2 linked regions of the Homo sapiens genome follow. The protein of the gene in region 1 interacts with the protein of each later gene in a biochemical or structural test. Each region holds a gene or a part of one and is shown in the gene's direction. Other genes may lie near its edges.

Region 1 (7,722 bases):
ATAATTAAAGGCCTGGCGCGGTGGCTCACGCCTGTAATCCCAGCACTTTGGGAGGCCGAGGCGGGCAGATCACGATGCCAGGAGATCAACACCATCCTGGCTAACACGGTGAAACCCCGTCTCTACTAAAAATACAAAAAATTAGCCGGGTGTGGTGGTGGGTGCCTGTAGTCCCAGCTACTCGGGAGGCTGAGGCAGGAGAATGGCGTGAACCCGGGAGGCGGAGCTTGCAGTGAGCCGAGATCGCACCATTGCACTCCGGCCTGGGCAACAGAGCGAGACTCTGTCTCAAAAAAAAAAAAAAAGCAAAAATAAATATTTAAAAATAAAATAAGGTGTGGGGGGCTCCTCAGGCAAGCTGGGGTCTTAAGGGAGGGAACTCCTTTAGCAGCCAGCTTCAGAGAGCACAGAATTGGGGGGCAGACGATTCTTGTACCTAATTTGGGGTGGAGGACGTTGGTTTGGCCTCGCTGGGAAGGGACTACCTTAGCTGCACAGAACAAGATGGCTTCAGCCCCTCACTCACCTCCTTTGCCATTGTAGATGTAGCTCTCCCAAAAGCGCTCCTTGAGGGGGAAGGAGTGGAAAAGAAGGGGAAAAAGCAGGAATTCAGCTGGGAGGTTCACACCCCCAAACTAGCCCATCCTGATTTCTGAGACACCAAGGAGGAGGGAGCTGAAGGCCAGAACCTACCCCTGCAACCTCCCCACAGGTATAGAGAAGAGAGAGGGCCCGAAACTCCAGGGTCTCGAGGCCCTCACCGTGAGAGTGTTGTCCTCAAAATACTCCCTGGCCTCTTCCCAGGAACACCTCTCTTCCAGACACTCCCGTTCCAGGTTCCCTGGTGTGAGCAGCTCCAGGTCCCAGTGGTTGGCTCTTGGAATCCGGGTATGGCTACTCAGGAAGCTCTGGGCCTCTGGGGGACCCAGGAAGACTTCTGGACCCAAAGACATGAGGGACAGAAAAATGGAGGGTCCCTAGGGCTGGAGTCATAGGGGGATGGAAAGCAGTGGGGTCCTGGAGGAAGGAGCAGGGGCTGGGAATCCAGATTCCTGGGTCTGAAGGAGGAAGGGGCTGGGTCCTGGACTCCTGGAAGAGGAAGGACTAGAAACATTCCTGAGTCAGGGGGAGGCCAACGCCAAGTGTCTGGATGCCACTTCCCCCAAACACTCACCTTGGTCTGTCTCCTCACTGGGTGAAGTATCCAGGCAGGTGGTTAATGCCATATATAGCAGCAGCAGAGAGGGGTGGCCCCTCATATTTTCCAGACACCTAGAACCAGGTTTGTTACAGCTGACAAGGGCCTTAGTCCCTGGGTAATGAGGCAGTGCCTCTCTGACTGGCCTCTGTGGTCCACGAATGGCAATAATAGCAGCCACTTACACAGCCTGTATTCTGTGCCAGATACTGTTTACCTATATAAACTCATTTTACTTTTTTTTTTTTTTGACATGGAGTCTCGCTCTGTCAGCCAGGCTGGAGTGCAGTGGCACAGTCTCAGCTCACTGCAACCTCTGTGTCCTGGGTTCAAGCGATTCTCGTGCCTCAGCCTACCAAGTAGCTGGGATTACAGGCATGCGCCACCACACCCGCTAATTTTCTTTTTTTTTTGAGACAGAGTCTCGCTCTGTCACCCAGGCTAGAGTGCATTGGTGTGATCTCCGCTCACTGCACACTCCACCCCCCAGGTTCATGCCATTCTCCTGCCTCAGCCTCCCGAGTAGCTGGGACTACAGGTGCCGGCCACCATGCCCGGCTAATTTTTTTGTATTTTTAGTAGAGATGGGGTTTCACTGTGTTAGTCAGGATGGTCTCGATCTCCTGACCTCGTGATCTGCCCGCCTCAGCCTCCCAAAGTGAATTTTCATATTTTTAGTAGAGATGGGGTTTCACCATGTTGGCCAGGCTGGTCTTGAATTCCTGACCTCAAGTGATCTGCCTGCCTCAGCCTCCCAAAGTGCTGGTGCTGGGATTACAGGCGTGAGCCACTGTGCCCGGCCTCAACTCATTTTACTTTTCACAGGAGTCATACAAAAATTAGCCAGGCGTGGTTGTGGGCGCCTGTAATCCCAACTACTTGGGAGGCTGAGCCAGAATAATCACTTGAAAGGGGAGACAGAGGTTGCAGTGAGCCGAGACTGTGCCACTGCACTCCAGCCTGGGTGACAGAGCGAGATTCCATGTCAAAAACAAAACAAAACAAAACTTTTCACAGGAGTTTTTTTTTTTTTTTTTTTTTAGACAGAGTCTCGCTCTGTCACCCAGGCTGGAGTGCAGTGGCGCTATCTCAGCTCACTGTGACCTCTGCCTCCTGGGTTCAAGCGATTCTCCTGACTCAGCCTCCCGGGTAGTTGAGATTACAGGTGCGCACCACCACGCCTGGCTAATTTTTTGTATTTTTAGTAGAGATGGGGTTTCACCATGTTGGCCAGGCTGGTCTCAAACTCCTGACCTCAAGTGATCCACCCGCCTCGGCCTCCCAAAGTGCTGGGATTACAGGTGTGAGCCACTGCGCCCGACCAGGAGTCCTATTATTATCCCCAGTATAGAGAACAGGAAACTGAGGCACAGAGAGGTAATATAGCTTGCCGAAGGTCACACAGTGTGCAAGTGTGAGAGCCAGGATTTCAGTGAAGGCAGTGTCCGCCAGAGAAGAAAGCAAGGAGCAGGCAGCTTATCTTTCTTTCCCCACTGTGTCTACAGCACCTGACACAGATGCTTATAAACATGTCCACTGGTGATCTGGAGTCTTCCCTTCCTGGTAATTTCCACTTGTGCCTCTTTCTGTGCTCATTGTCACATCCACCCACAGACAACAAAGATTACGAGAGAGGCAGAGGCAGGGGATTAGTTATATTATTGGGTCTAGGGACCTAAGTGGGCAGGGGCCCTGGACTCCTGGGCCTAGGAGCCCCAAACTTCTGGGTCTCGGAGGGGCGGGGAGCCAGGATGCCTGGGTCCCCAAGCCAGGCTCTTCCTCCAGGGACATTCACTTACCTGCCCAGAAATGTGAGCACTGCCCCTTCCTCTTTAATCGAGAACTCCTTGGCCAGCTACAGCCAGCTGTGAAAGGGGACAGGGAAGAGGGGAGGGGATAAGGAGGAGGGGCGCCCCACTCCCGGTAACCAGGCCTGATCCCCGTTTCTGGCAGGTGGGCGGAACTTGCCATTACCTGCCCTGGGCGGGACTCAGGTAAGGGACAAAGTATTTAAAGGGACCTTGGGATAAAGGACTTAAAGGCCAGAGCTCCATGAGGAAGCCAAGGTGTCGAATACCATGGGATACCTGGGGGATTAGATTCGACCCTCCTCCTCCCTCCCGACCCCTACCCGCTCTGGCTCTCCCCTGGGAGTTCGTCTGTCCGAGCTAGAAAAATTAATATCTAGGTCTCTAGGTATCTAGAAACTAGCGGGAACGATATGCCTTAGTCCCTGGGACAGCTGGGCAGTGCCGCAGTAAATCCCTGTTTCCTGAGAGCGACTTGAACGGCTTTGATTTTCAATTTCCCAATGGCTCTGTCTGTAAAATGGGAGCGTAGTTGTCTCTTCTCAATTGTTTTAAGATGCAGCAAGAAAAGTGGATGATATATTTGGGAAAGTGGGCTTCCCGATCTCTAGGGGAAGTGATTAGTCCTTAAATTTGGGCTTGGAGAGACTCAAAACCTGGGAACCAAGCAGGAAAAAACGATCTCCCTGGGAAATGCCTCGTACATAGTAAGCGTTCCCCATATTCCCACCAGTTTCAATATCCGGAACTTTCGATTAGCTACTCACGTTTCCGGAGAGAGAAAGAGAAGAGAGGACTTGAGCAAGCCAGGCGAGGCACTTCCGCAACTAGGGGCAGCTCTACTTCCGGTGCCTTCTGCTGGGCGGAAGTGGGCGGAGCGGAGGGGGAAAATAGTGCTCCTTTCCGGTGTCGGGGCACAGTTGAAGAAGCGACCGAGGGACTGGGAGTCGTTAGTGAGGTGAGTTCGAGGCGGTGCAGGAAGAGTGTTGCTGGGATCGCTTTCCTGCGGGCTAGAGGCCTGGGGTCTTGAGGGAGACTGGGGCAAGATTTTGGATTCCCGATTCCCTGTCAATCATTATTAATACAGCTGTCCGGGCGCCCCAAGTTTGAAGCTGAACTACACTCTGCTGGAGGTGGCCAACCGTCCATCGGGCAGTTCTCTCTCTCTTTGTCTCTCTCTCTCACTATAAACTCAGTCAAGTGGTAGCTAGCATCGGCCAGTTCTCCTGAGAGTTACAGTTCTGCTGTAGATGATGGCTATTTGCTGGTGGTCCCAAGGGAAGGAGTGGACTGGGATTGCTGGGGGTCTAAGGAGTGGGAGTTGAGGAGGGAGAACTCCTTTCCTGGCCTCAGTTTCTCAGACTGTGGTGGGACGGCGGGCGATACTAGATTGTGCAGTCATCCATCGCCACCTTCTCTTCACCTTTTTGACAGCCCCTTCCCTTTCGGGGTTGGTGCAGGGATTCACGTTTTCTTGTGTGGAGCTTCGGGGTCAGGCAGTCATGGATTCCCATTCTGATTGTGCTGCTAATTCTGTGAACTTGGGGCTTGAACGGTCCTTGAGGCAGTTTGATGTTAATGTTTTCTTACGAAAATGTTCAAACTTATATAAAAGTGAGAGAAGAATACAGGAATTCCTGTCACCCAAATCACCAATGATTATTTTTGCCATACTTGCTGTATTTTTTTAAACTTAAAGAGATTAAAACAAATCGTAGGCATCATGACACTTAAGGATTGTCAAAAGACAAAATTGCAACACATTTAGTGAGAAGATCTTAATTGGCATTTATTCGTGAATCTACAATCAAACAACATCTAATTATGGAAAATAGCGTGAGTGTTCCGATGAGCTGAGCAGAGGTTGTTTTCAGAGACAAAGGGCTGAGAAAATCAGAAACGGAAAACAAAAAGCTAGTTGATTAAATTGATTAACTTGATTAAATTTCTAAGTTAAAGGTTAAAGTAGAGGGGACTTCCTTTATCAGGTGGGCTAAAACTGGGTTGTTTGGGGATTTGGCTATTATCTCTCTCCTGATATCTCAGAAGATCAGATATCAACTTAGTTTTGGCTTGGAAGCATGGAACTTTAGCATGAGTGTCTCCATTTTGGTTTGGTCTGTTGAACCTAGTGCAGGAGCTCAATCCAAACCAATGACCTTCTATAAATTTTATCTAACAGGGTGCGTGTGTAAAAACCAGAAACATTGCTGATATGACCACAATACCATCATCACACTTTAAAAGAACAACCGTAATTCTAGACTACTATCCATTACGTGGTGCAGAGTCAAGTCCAGTGTAACTGTGGGTTTGTTGGAATCAGGATATAGTTAAGTAATTGCTATCGTCTTTTACATCTCTCTTAATTTAGAACTGTTCCCCCTTCCACTCCACTTTGGTTATTTCTTGGTGTAATCGATTCATTGAAGAAACTAATTCTAGTTCAGTTGATCATCCCACCATCTGAATTTGTCCCGTTTGCTTTTTTGTGGTCTCATTTTACCTGCTTCTGTTTTCTTTCTTTTTTTTTTTAAGTATTTAAAAATAGGCCAGACACAGTGGCTCATGCCTGTAATCCCAGCACTTTGGGAGGCCAAGGCGGGCGGATCATGAGATCAGGAGATCAAGACCATCCTGGCTAACACGGTGAAACCCCTTAGCCGGGCATGATGGCAGGCACCTGTAGTCCCAGCTACTCAGGAGGCTGAGGCAGGAGAATTGCGTGAACCCGGGAGGCAGAGCTTGCAGTGAGCCGAGATCACGCCACTGCACTCTAGCCTGGGCGACAGAGTGAGACTCTGTCTCAAAAAAAAAAAAGAAAAAATAGATAGAGACAAGGTGTCACTATGTTGCCCAGGCTGGTCTCAAACTCCTGGGCTTAAGCGATCCTCCTGCCTTGGCCTCCCAAAGTGCTGTGCTTAGATTACAGGTGTGAGCCATTGAGCCCGGCCTCATTTTACTTGTTTCCTCATGCCAGGGATCAGCTAATTATGTTCTACAGACCAAACTCAAATCCTGCCAGCTACCTGTTTTAAAAATCCCCATTGGGCAGGCACAGTGGCTCATGCCTGTAATCCTTGCACTTTGGGAGGTGAAGGCAGGTGGATCATCTGAGGTCAGGAGTTCGAAACCAGCCTGGCCAACATGGTAAAACCTCATCTCTACTAAAAATACAAAAATTGGCTGGTCATGGTGGCTGGCACCTATAATCCCAGCTACTCAGGAGGCTGAGGCAGGAGAATTGCTTGAACCCTAGGGACAGAGGTTGCAGTGAGCTGAGATCATGCCACTTCACTCCAGCCTGGGCAAAAGAGCATAACTCCCTCTCAAAAAAAAAAAGCATTAGTGGGATATGATTTACCTAACATATAGTTCACCCATTGAAAATATACAATTCAGTGGTGTTTAGTACGTTGACAGAGTTGTGCAACCATCAACACTATCATTTTAAGAATATTTTCATCACCCAAAAAGAAACCCTGGTACTCATTAGCAGTCATTCCCTATTTCCTCCCAATCCTTCCCACCCCAGTCTTTGGCAGCCACTACTCTGCTATATCTGTGGATTTGCCTAATCTGGGTATTTTGCACAAATGAAACCATAAAATATTATTGTGACTGCCTTCCTTCTTTCATTTAGCATGTTTTCAAGGTTCACCTATGTTGTGGCATGTATCAATACTTCTTTTTTTTTTTTTTTTTCCCGAGACACGGCCTTGCTCTGTTACCCAGGCTGGAGTGCAGTGGTTCGATCATGGCTCACTGCAGCCTCAACCTCCTGGGTTCAAGTGATCCTCCTGCCTTGGCCTCCCAAAGTACTGGGATTACAGGTGTGAGCCATCGGCGCCCAGCCAGCTACTTTATTCTTTTTATGGCTGGATAATATTCCTTTACCCAAGATATACTTCTTTTCTTTTTTTTTCTTTTTTTGAGACAGAGTCTTGCTCTGTCACCCAGGCTGGAGTGCAGTGGCGTGATCTCGGCTCCCAGGTTTGAGCGACTCTCCTGCCTCAGCCTCCCGACTAGCTGGGGCTACAGGCATGCGCTACCACGCCTAGCTAATTTTTGTATTTTTAGTAGAGATGGGGTTTCGCCATGTTGGCCAGGATGGTCTCGATTTCTTGACCTCATGATCCGCCCGCTTTGGCCTCCCAAAGTGCTGGGATTACAGGCATGAGCCACCGCGCCCCGCCTGCATGGATGTATGTTTTTATTTCTATTGGCAGTGGAATTGCTGGGTCAAAAGGTGACTATTTAACCTTTTGAGAAACTGTGACTTTTCCAGAATGGCTGTACCATTTTACATTTCTACCACCAATGTATAAGGGTTCCAGTTTCTCCATATCCACACCAGCACTTATTATTTATCTTTTTGATTATAGTCATTCTAGGGGGTGTGAACTGGTGTCTTTTAACATGCTTATTGGCCATTTGTAGATCTTTGAAGAACTGTCTATTCCAATCCTTTACCCATTTTCAAATTGTGTTAGGTGTCCTTTCATTATTGAGTTGTAAGTTTTTAATATATTCTCACTGCAATTCCCTTATCAGATATCCTGATTTTTTTTTTTTTTTTTTTTTTTTTGAGACAGAGTTTCACTCTTGTTGCCTAGGCTGGAGTGCAATGGTGCGATCTTGGCTCATCACGACCTTCGCCTCCCAGGTTCAAGTGATTGTCCCATTTCAGCCTCCCGAGTAGCTGGGATTACAGGT
Region 2 (7,800 bases), on another chromosome or scaffold:
AAAAGACAATATCATTATGAAAGTAGCTTTAAACTAGTAGATCCTCTGAAATAGTCTTGGGGACCACTAGAGGTTTGTGGACCACATTTTGTGTGTCAGTGTTCTGAAACATGAAGTAGAGTTAGAACTATTGACAGATGCTAAATAGGCAGTTGACTGCTTTGGGTAAGGTTTTCCCAGAAGATGGCTTTAACAAGATAGGGTTTTCTCCCAATACTGTGGTTTTTCAATAGGTAGCAAATGGGTTAGGTGTGGTGACTTACACCTGTAATCCCAGCACTTTGGGAGGCTGAGATGGGAGAATCGCTTGAGGCCAGGAGTTAGAGACCAGCCGGGGCAACGTAGTGAGACACTGTCTCTAACAACAACAACAAAAAAAACCCCAGAAAAACGAAGATAGTATATAGTTTTCTCTTCTTTTCATTCTTAATCAGAAATGAGTTAAATTATTTTTCAAAGTATACGGTTGTTTTTCTTGATGATGAGCTTGTCATTAAAATATGTGTTAACTGTTTTTACTGGCTTGTAAGTGGTTGAAATTTCTATTTGAACATTGATTTGTGATCGAAAATTTTTTTCCAAGGTTTTATTGAAGGTGTTATATCAGTACAAGGAGAAGCAATATATGGCTCCTCGAGTTTTACAACAGACATTAAATTATATTAATCAAGGAGTTTCTCATGCTCTCACCTGGAAGAATCTGAAGCCCCATATACAAGTAATAATTTTTATCTGAAATGTTTTTATAGTAAATATAATAGAAATGACATCAATTGCCATAAAGGTTGAAAAATTGCATGTTTGTTGAGTTGTGTTACTTAGACTACTTCTGGTGATTGTTTTGAGAGTATAGCAGAAAAAGGAGATAAGACAGTGACATAAAGTTATGAGAGGTATCTTGTGAATATTCAACTTATCTTTTAATCCAAAACTGTTGTCTTCAAACTTGCAATTTAAGTTCTTAATATTGGACTATGATTATATTTTATCATGTAATTTGGAGTAGCCAAGGGACTTTATCTCACCAGATTCATTTCTAGTATAAATGACTTACCTGCTATTTCTATGAATAATTTATGTGCTTTATTTAGAGCTGTAGAATTTTATAGACTATATATATTTAGAATACTTAATTGCGACCTTTGTACACATATATCTTAAAGTTACTTGTTACAGAAAGGGGAAGTACATGTAGTTTGATAGTTGATCTTAGAACACATTAAATGCATTACTAACGTTTGATATTAAGCTTTAAAATACATATAGTGTTACTTTGGTTTTAATACTTAAAGGAAATTTGAAGGTTTAAATTTGAAAACTGATGGTTATTGTTTTCTTAACTTTTAAATTGCAGGGCATTATCCAAGATGTTATTTTTCCATTGATGTGCTATACAGATGCTGATGAGGAACTTTGGCAAGAAGACCCTTACGAATATATACGCATGAAGTTTGGTAAGGAATTTTCACGTTTTTAGAAACAAAAAATGTCAGTAATTAAGATTACAGTGATTGCATGTAGCCAACCTAGGGGGTATTATGTATCTTCTTTGTTGTTTTAATGTAATTGATCCCTTGTGTAGTCCTTTTTGGGGCTATTTATTAATTATGACATTTGATAATGATAATCTTATTTTTGGCAGACACAAATTCAATACTGTTAAGTTTTTATTACTGAATACCAAAACTGTTAGATATTCAAGATTACACCTCAACACTAAATGTCTTAACTATACTTTTGGATCTTATGTTAGCCATCATATGAGTGGGAAATGAGAAAACACATCTAGGAAGCTGGTGTCACATGAAGTCCTTGCACAGAACTAAAGAATTGTAATTTGGCTAATAATGTTGAATATTGGTCCTTATTCTTACCAAGTCATTTGTGCTTTTTGCAGCTTGTACTTTTGTGACCCTGTTGTGAAAATTCTCACATCAGTAGTGTTTCATACATACGATTTAAACTGCTGAGTTCTGAGTTAATAAATAAAAATGAAAGCTATTAGGAGGAATTCATGGATTAACATTTAATTTTCACAGGCCAGGTGCGGTGGCTAAGGCCTGTAAATCCCAACGTGTTGGGAGGCCGAGGCAGGCAGATCGTTTGAGGTCAGGAGTTTGAGACCAGCCTGACCAATATAGTGAAACCCCATCTCTACTAAAAATACAAAAATTAGCCGGGCGTGGTGGCAGGCACCTGTAAACCAGCTACTTGGGAGGCTGAGGCAGGAGAATTGCTTGAACCTGGGAGATGGAGGTTACAATGAGCCGAGATCGCCCACTGCACTCCAGCCTGAGTGACAGAGCGAGACTCCATCTCAAAACAAACAAAAGCATTCAATTTGTACAGAAAAGACATTGAATTCTGCTTTTGCAAAATTATAAAGGGATCTGGGATCATTTTCATACCTTATGTAAAGATTAAGCATGTTTTTTAATGCTTTGTTGAAGAAATTAATGTTTATTGTCTTAATTTTAAACTTGTTCTCTAGATGTGTTTGAAGATTTCATTTCTCCTACCACTGCTGCCCAGACACTTTTGTTTACAGCCTGTAGTAAGAGGAAAGAGGTAGGCTTATTTAATGTTTAGATAACTTTTCTGTATTATTTAAAATTTATTCAACTATACACTTTTTAAATGTTAGTCATGTGAGTCATTTTGTTAGTATGTTTTTTAAGGACTGTTGGCCTATTCAGTAACAATACTTTTCTCTTTTAATCTAGGTACTGCAAAAGACTATGGGATTTTGTTACCAGATTCTTACAGAACCAAATGCTGACCCTCGAAAAAAAGATGGAGCCCTGCATATGATTGGCTCTTTAGCTGAAATACTTCTGAAGGTATTCTTTAGTGTGTTTGTATGTGCATGACTATGCAAGTAGTTTTAAAAAATAAATAGCCAGCCAGGCACAGTGGCTCACTTCTATAATCCCAGCACTTTCGGGATGCTGAGGCAGGCAGATTGCCTGAGCCCAGGAGTTTGAGAACAGCCTGGGCAACATAGTGATACCCCCATCTCTATAAGGATAAAAAATAGGCCGGGTGTGGTGGCTTATGCCTGTAATCCCAGCTATTTGGGAGGCCAGGGCGGGGGGATCACCTGAGGTCAGCAGTTGAAGACCAGCCTGGCCAACATGGTGAAACCCCGTCTCTACTAAAAATACAAAAATCCGCCGGGCGTGATGGCTCACGCCTGTAATCCCAGCATTTTGGGAGACCGAGGTGGGTGGATCATGAGGTCAGGAGATCGAGACCATCCTGGCTAACACAGTGAAACCCCGTCTCTACTAAAAATAAAAATAAAAAATTAGCCGGGCATGGTGGCTGGCGCCTGTAGTCCCAGCTACTCAGGAGGCTGAGGCAGGAGAATGGCTTGAACCCGGGACGTGGAGTTTGCAGTGAGCCGAGATCACGCCACTGCAATCCAGCCTGGGCGACAGAGTGAGACTCTGTCTCCAAAAAAAAAAAAAAAAATCAGCTGGGCATGGTGGTGGGCACCTGTAATCCCAGCTACTTAGGAGGCTGAGGCAGGAGAATCACTTGAACTTGGGAGGCGGAGGCTGCAGTGAGCCGAGGTCATGCCACTGCACTCCATGCTCCAGTCCAGGCGACAGAGACTCCGTCTCAAAAAAAAATAAAAAAATAAAAAATAACAACCTTATGGAGTGTACAACTCAGTGGTTTTTAGTTTATTCACAGTTGTATAACTATCACCCCCAGAAGGAACTCTGTATACATTAGCAGTCACTCCACATATCACCCCAAATCTCCCAACCCTAGGCTACCTATAGTCCACATTTTTTCTATGGATTTGTTTATTGTGGACATTTTATATAAATGGAATCATATAATACGTAGCTCTTTGTGGGTGACTTCTTTCATTTAGTGTAATGTTTTCAAGGATTATCTGTGTTATAGCAGGTTTCAGTACTTTTTCCTTTTTGTTGCCAAATTATATTTCATTATATTAATATACCACATTTTATTTACTCATTCATTAGTTGTTTCTACTTTCTGGCTGCTTACAAATGTTGCTGTGAACATTCATGTTTAAATTTTTATGTGGACATACGTTTTCATTTTTCATGGGTATATACCTAGGAGTATGAATTGCTTGTCATAATTTGAGACACCGCAGAACCCATTTTCCAACGTAGCTATACCATTTTATATTTCTGCCAGCAGTATATTTTGATTATAGCCATCCTAGTGAACGTGAAGCATTATGTCTTTGTGGCTTTGAAATTTTTCATGTGCTTACTATCCGTTTGTATATTTTCTTTAGAGAATATCTATTCAAATTCCTTGCCCCAAAAAAATTGCTTGCCTTTGTTTTTTTTCTTTTTATTTTTTGAGATGGAGTCTTGCTCTGTCACCCAGGCTGGAGTGCAGTGGTGAGATCTTGGCTCGCTGCAGCCACCAGTCTCCCACATTAAAGTGATTCTCCTGCCTCAGCCTCCCAAGTAGCTGAGATTTCCGCCTCCCCGCCCCCCCGCCATATGCTGGAGTGCAGTGGCGCAATCTCGACTCACTGCAACCTCTACCTTCCGGGTTCAAGTGATTCTCATGCCTCAGGTGCCTGCCCCCAGCCTAATTTTTGTATTTTTAGTAGAGATGGGGTTTTGCCATGTTGGCCAGGCTGGTCTCAAACTCCTGGCTTCAGGTGATCCGCCTGCCTCAGCCTCCCAAAGTGCCAGGATTACAGGCGTGAGCCACTGTGCCTGGCCCTTGCCCATTTTTAATTGGGTTATTTGTCTTTTTATAATTGAGTTGTTAGAAATCTTTACATTCTAAAGCCAGGCACTAAGTACTCACAGAATATTTAGTCATTGTGTCTTTTATCTTTTCGTTTTTTGGAAATGGAGCCTCGTTCTGTTATACAGGTTGGAGTGCAGTGGCGTGATCTCTGCTTACTACAACCTCCACCTCCTGAGTTCAAGCGATTCTCCTGCCTCAGCCTCCCGAGTAGCTGGGACTGCAGACACCTGCCACCACACCAGCTAATTTTTGTATTTTCAGTAGAGATGGGGTTTCACCATGTTGGCCTGGCTGGTCTCGAACTCCTGACCTCAGGTGATCCACCCGCCTCGGCTTCCCAAAATGCTGGGATTACAGGCGTGAATCACTGCACCCGGCCGTCTTTCATCTTTTCTATACCTGTTCACCCATCCTTCTCTTTGTTTATAAAGTATGTATTAAAGACATTCTAATCATTTGTGGCATAGAAGGCTGAGAATTAGTGAGTTCTCTTGGCAAATTCAAGTTTATCTATTCTTACCTTTCACTCAGCTTCACTTAGTGGTAATACCTTACATAGGTAGGCAAAGTTATCAAAAACATGAAGTTGATTTTGGTATGCTACTATCAACTAATCCATGGACCTTTTTAAAGTTTCACAAGATTTCCCACTATGTCCTTTTTTCTGTTCCATGACCCAGTCTAGGGTCTCACATTGCATTAAGTTGTCATGTCTGATTATGTAAGTGTTGATATATAAGTGTCTTATGTTTTTAATGTTGATTTAATGTGCAGTTTAAGGAACTCTTCTAAAAAGCTTCTTTCCACTTAGAAAATACTCACTTTGAATACTGAGAGTGCCTTTTTAGAGAATCACTTGAATCTGGGAGGTGGACATTGCAGTGAGCCGAAATTGTGCCACTGCACTCCAGCCTGGGCAACACAGCAAGACTCCGTCTCAAAAAAAAAGAAAAAAAAAAGAGTGTGCCTTTTTAGATAGCCAGTTTATTCGTTTGAAAGCAGGATTTTTCTCAGGTTATGTTATTTTCAGCCAGAAACTTTATCAGACAAGTTTTTTCCTTATAAAAGTTTCATAGTAACAGATAAAATTAACCAAACTTACATCATTCGAACACTATTGCTGGTAAGATTTGGCATAATGGCTTTCTAATCAAGGAATATAAAAACGTGAAAATGTGTTTAGTGGTTTTTGGTGGTGAAGTTCTGGAATACGAAAATTGGTTGTGGATTCTGGGGTTCAAAGAATGAGAATAAATATATGTAACATTAATAGTCATTTTTAATAGTGTTATATCTGTTTGGAAATTGAGATGATTATATTTGGAACTGTATCAAAATAACTGTTGTTTATATTTACAGAAAAAGATCTATAAAGATCAGATGGAATACATGTTGCAGAATCATGTATTCCCTCTCTTCAGCAGTGAACTAGGCTACATGAGAGCAAGGGTATGTTTTAAAGCTGCATTATTTATATACTTTTGTCTTGTAATGAATGACTCTGTGGACTTTTATATTGAAACTTTTAAATGTTCACTTTGAAGCCTGTGTCTTATTTTAGGTTTCTGTTTAATGTAAATCTTTACATGGCTGCTGTAATGTGTGCATAGGTTTCATCTGTGTCTGGTAGCAGTGTCTGTCTGTGTTTTTCATTCAGATCTTGCTATCCACACAAACATCATGCGGCCAAAGAGTAACTTGGGATCATAGTACTGGTCTAGTGTTGTCTCTGGACACATCTACCACTGGCCAGCCTCCAAATTCCCACACACAGAACTCAGGGAATAGAGATTAGCTTGGGGGAATTTAAGGTAAGGTATCTACAGTAACTCACTGTGTTTTTACAAAAGGCTTGCTGGGTACTTCACTATTTTTGTGAAGTGAAGTTCAAAAGTGATCAGAACCTTCAAACAGCCTTAGAGCTAACAAGAAGATGTCTGATTGATGATAGAGAAATGCCTGTGAAAGTGGAAGCTGCCATTGCCCTTCAAGTATTGATCAGCAATCAAGAAAAAGGTAAAGGATTTTTGTATGTCAAGAAAAGTGAATGTTGGCCAGGTGCGGTAGGTCACACCTGTAATCTTAGCACTTCGGTAGGCTTAGGTGGGAAGAGCGCTTGAAGCCAGGTGTTCAAGACCAGCCTGGGCAACATCTCTACAAAAAAAATTTTTAAAAATTAACTGGACATAGTGGCATGTACCTGTAGTGCCAGCTACTTGGGAGTCTGAGGCAGCAGGATCACTAGAGCCCGACGGTTCGAGGCTGCAGTGTGCTACGATTGCCACTACCCTCCAGCCTGGGCAACAGATCAAAACCCTGCCTCTTATAAAATATATATATATATATTAATTGTAAAAAGCCATAATCCTAGAAACTTGGCATACTTCCTTTTTATGTGAAAGTACTTTTTTAAAAAACTCATCGATATTTGTTATATCAGGTTTTAAGAAGTTTTAGGGGTTTTACGCAAGTTTTTTACTCTTTCTCTTACAGCTAAAGAATATATCACACCATTCATCAGACCTGTAATGCAGGCTCTTCTTCACATTATAAGAGAAACAGAAAATGATGACCTTACCAATGTAATTCAGAAAATGATCTGTGAATATAGTGAAGAAGTTACTCCTATTGCAGTAGAAATGACACAACATTTGGTATGTTGTTTGAACCTACCATATTTGCAAGCATTTTAATGTAGCTCTCAGTATGTTCCAGGTTGTGTCACCAGTGGCTTGCCTTACCTTATAGCAGTCAACCTTTTTGGCACCTGGGATCGGTTTCATGGAAGATAATTTTTCCACAGATGGTCCGGGGGAGATGGCTTTGGGATGAAACTGTTCCACCTCTTATCAGACAGGCAATGGTTTCTCATAAGGGGTGTGCAACCTAGATCCTTGAATGCACATTTCACAGTAGGGTTCACGCTCCTGTGAGAATTTCCGGCAGTAATGCTCACTCACCTACCACTTATCTACTGCTCCTAACAGGCCATGGACCGGTACCAGTCCACTGCCTGGAGACTGGGGACCCCTGCCTTATAGT

What was found.
Region 2: the proteins of NOSIP (region 1) and IPO7 form a complex in vitro, tested with the Homo sapiens proteins (one study listed by BioGRID).

The regions. Positions count from the first base shown.
Region 1 is NC_000019.10:49,576,757-49,584,478, reverse strand, and holds the start of NOSIP (nitric oxide synthase-interacting protein), read left to right. Parts: upstream 1-3,922; 5' UTR 3,923-3,964; exon of another isoform or gene 3,965-5,338; intron 5,339-7,601; exon of another isoform or gene 7,602-7,720; intron 7,721-7,722. Other genes in the region: PRRG2 (transmembrane gamma-carboxyglutamic acid protein 2 isoform 1 precursor), read right to left, coding at 527-566, 762-937, 1,175-1,259. UniProt on the Homo sapiens protein: E3 ubiquitin-protein ligase that is essential for proper development of the forebrain, the eye, and the face. Catalyzes monoubiquitination of serine/threonine-protein phosphatase 2A (PP2A) catalytic subunit PPP2CA/PPP2CB.
Region 2 is NC_000011.10:9,422,423-9,430,222, forward strand, and holds part of IPO7 (importin-7), read left to right. Parts: intron 1-583; coding exon 584-718; intron 719-1,354; coding exon 1,355-1,454; intron 1,455-2,491; coding exon 2,492-2,568; intron 2,569-2,723; coding exon 2,724-2,840; intron 2,841-6,117; coding exon 6,118-6,207; intron 6,208-6,343; exon of another isoform or gene 6,344-6,532; intron 6,533-6,608; coding exon 6,609-6,774; intron 6,775-7,251; coding exon 7,252-7,412; intron 7,413-7,800. UniProt on the Homo sapiens protein: Functions in nuclear protein import, either by acting as autonomous nuclear transport receptor or as an adapter-like protein in association with the importin-beta subunit KPNB1.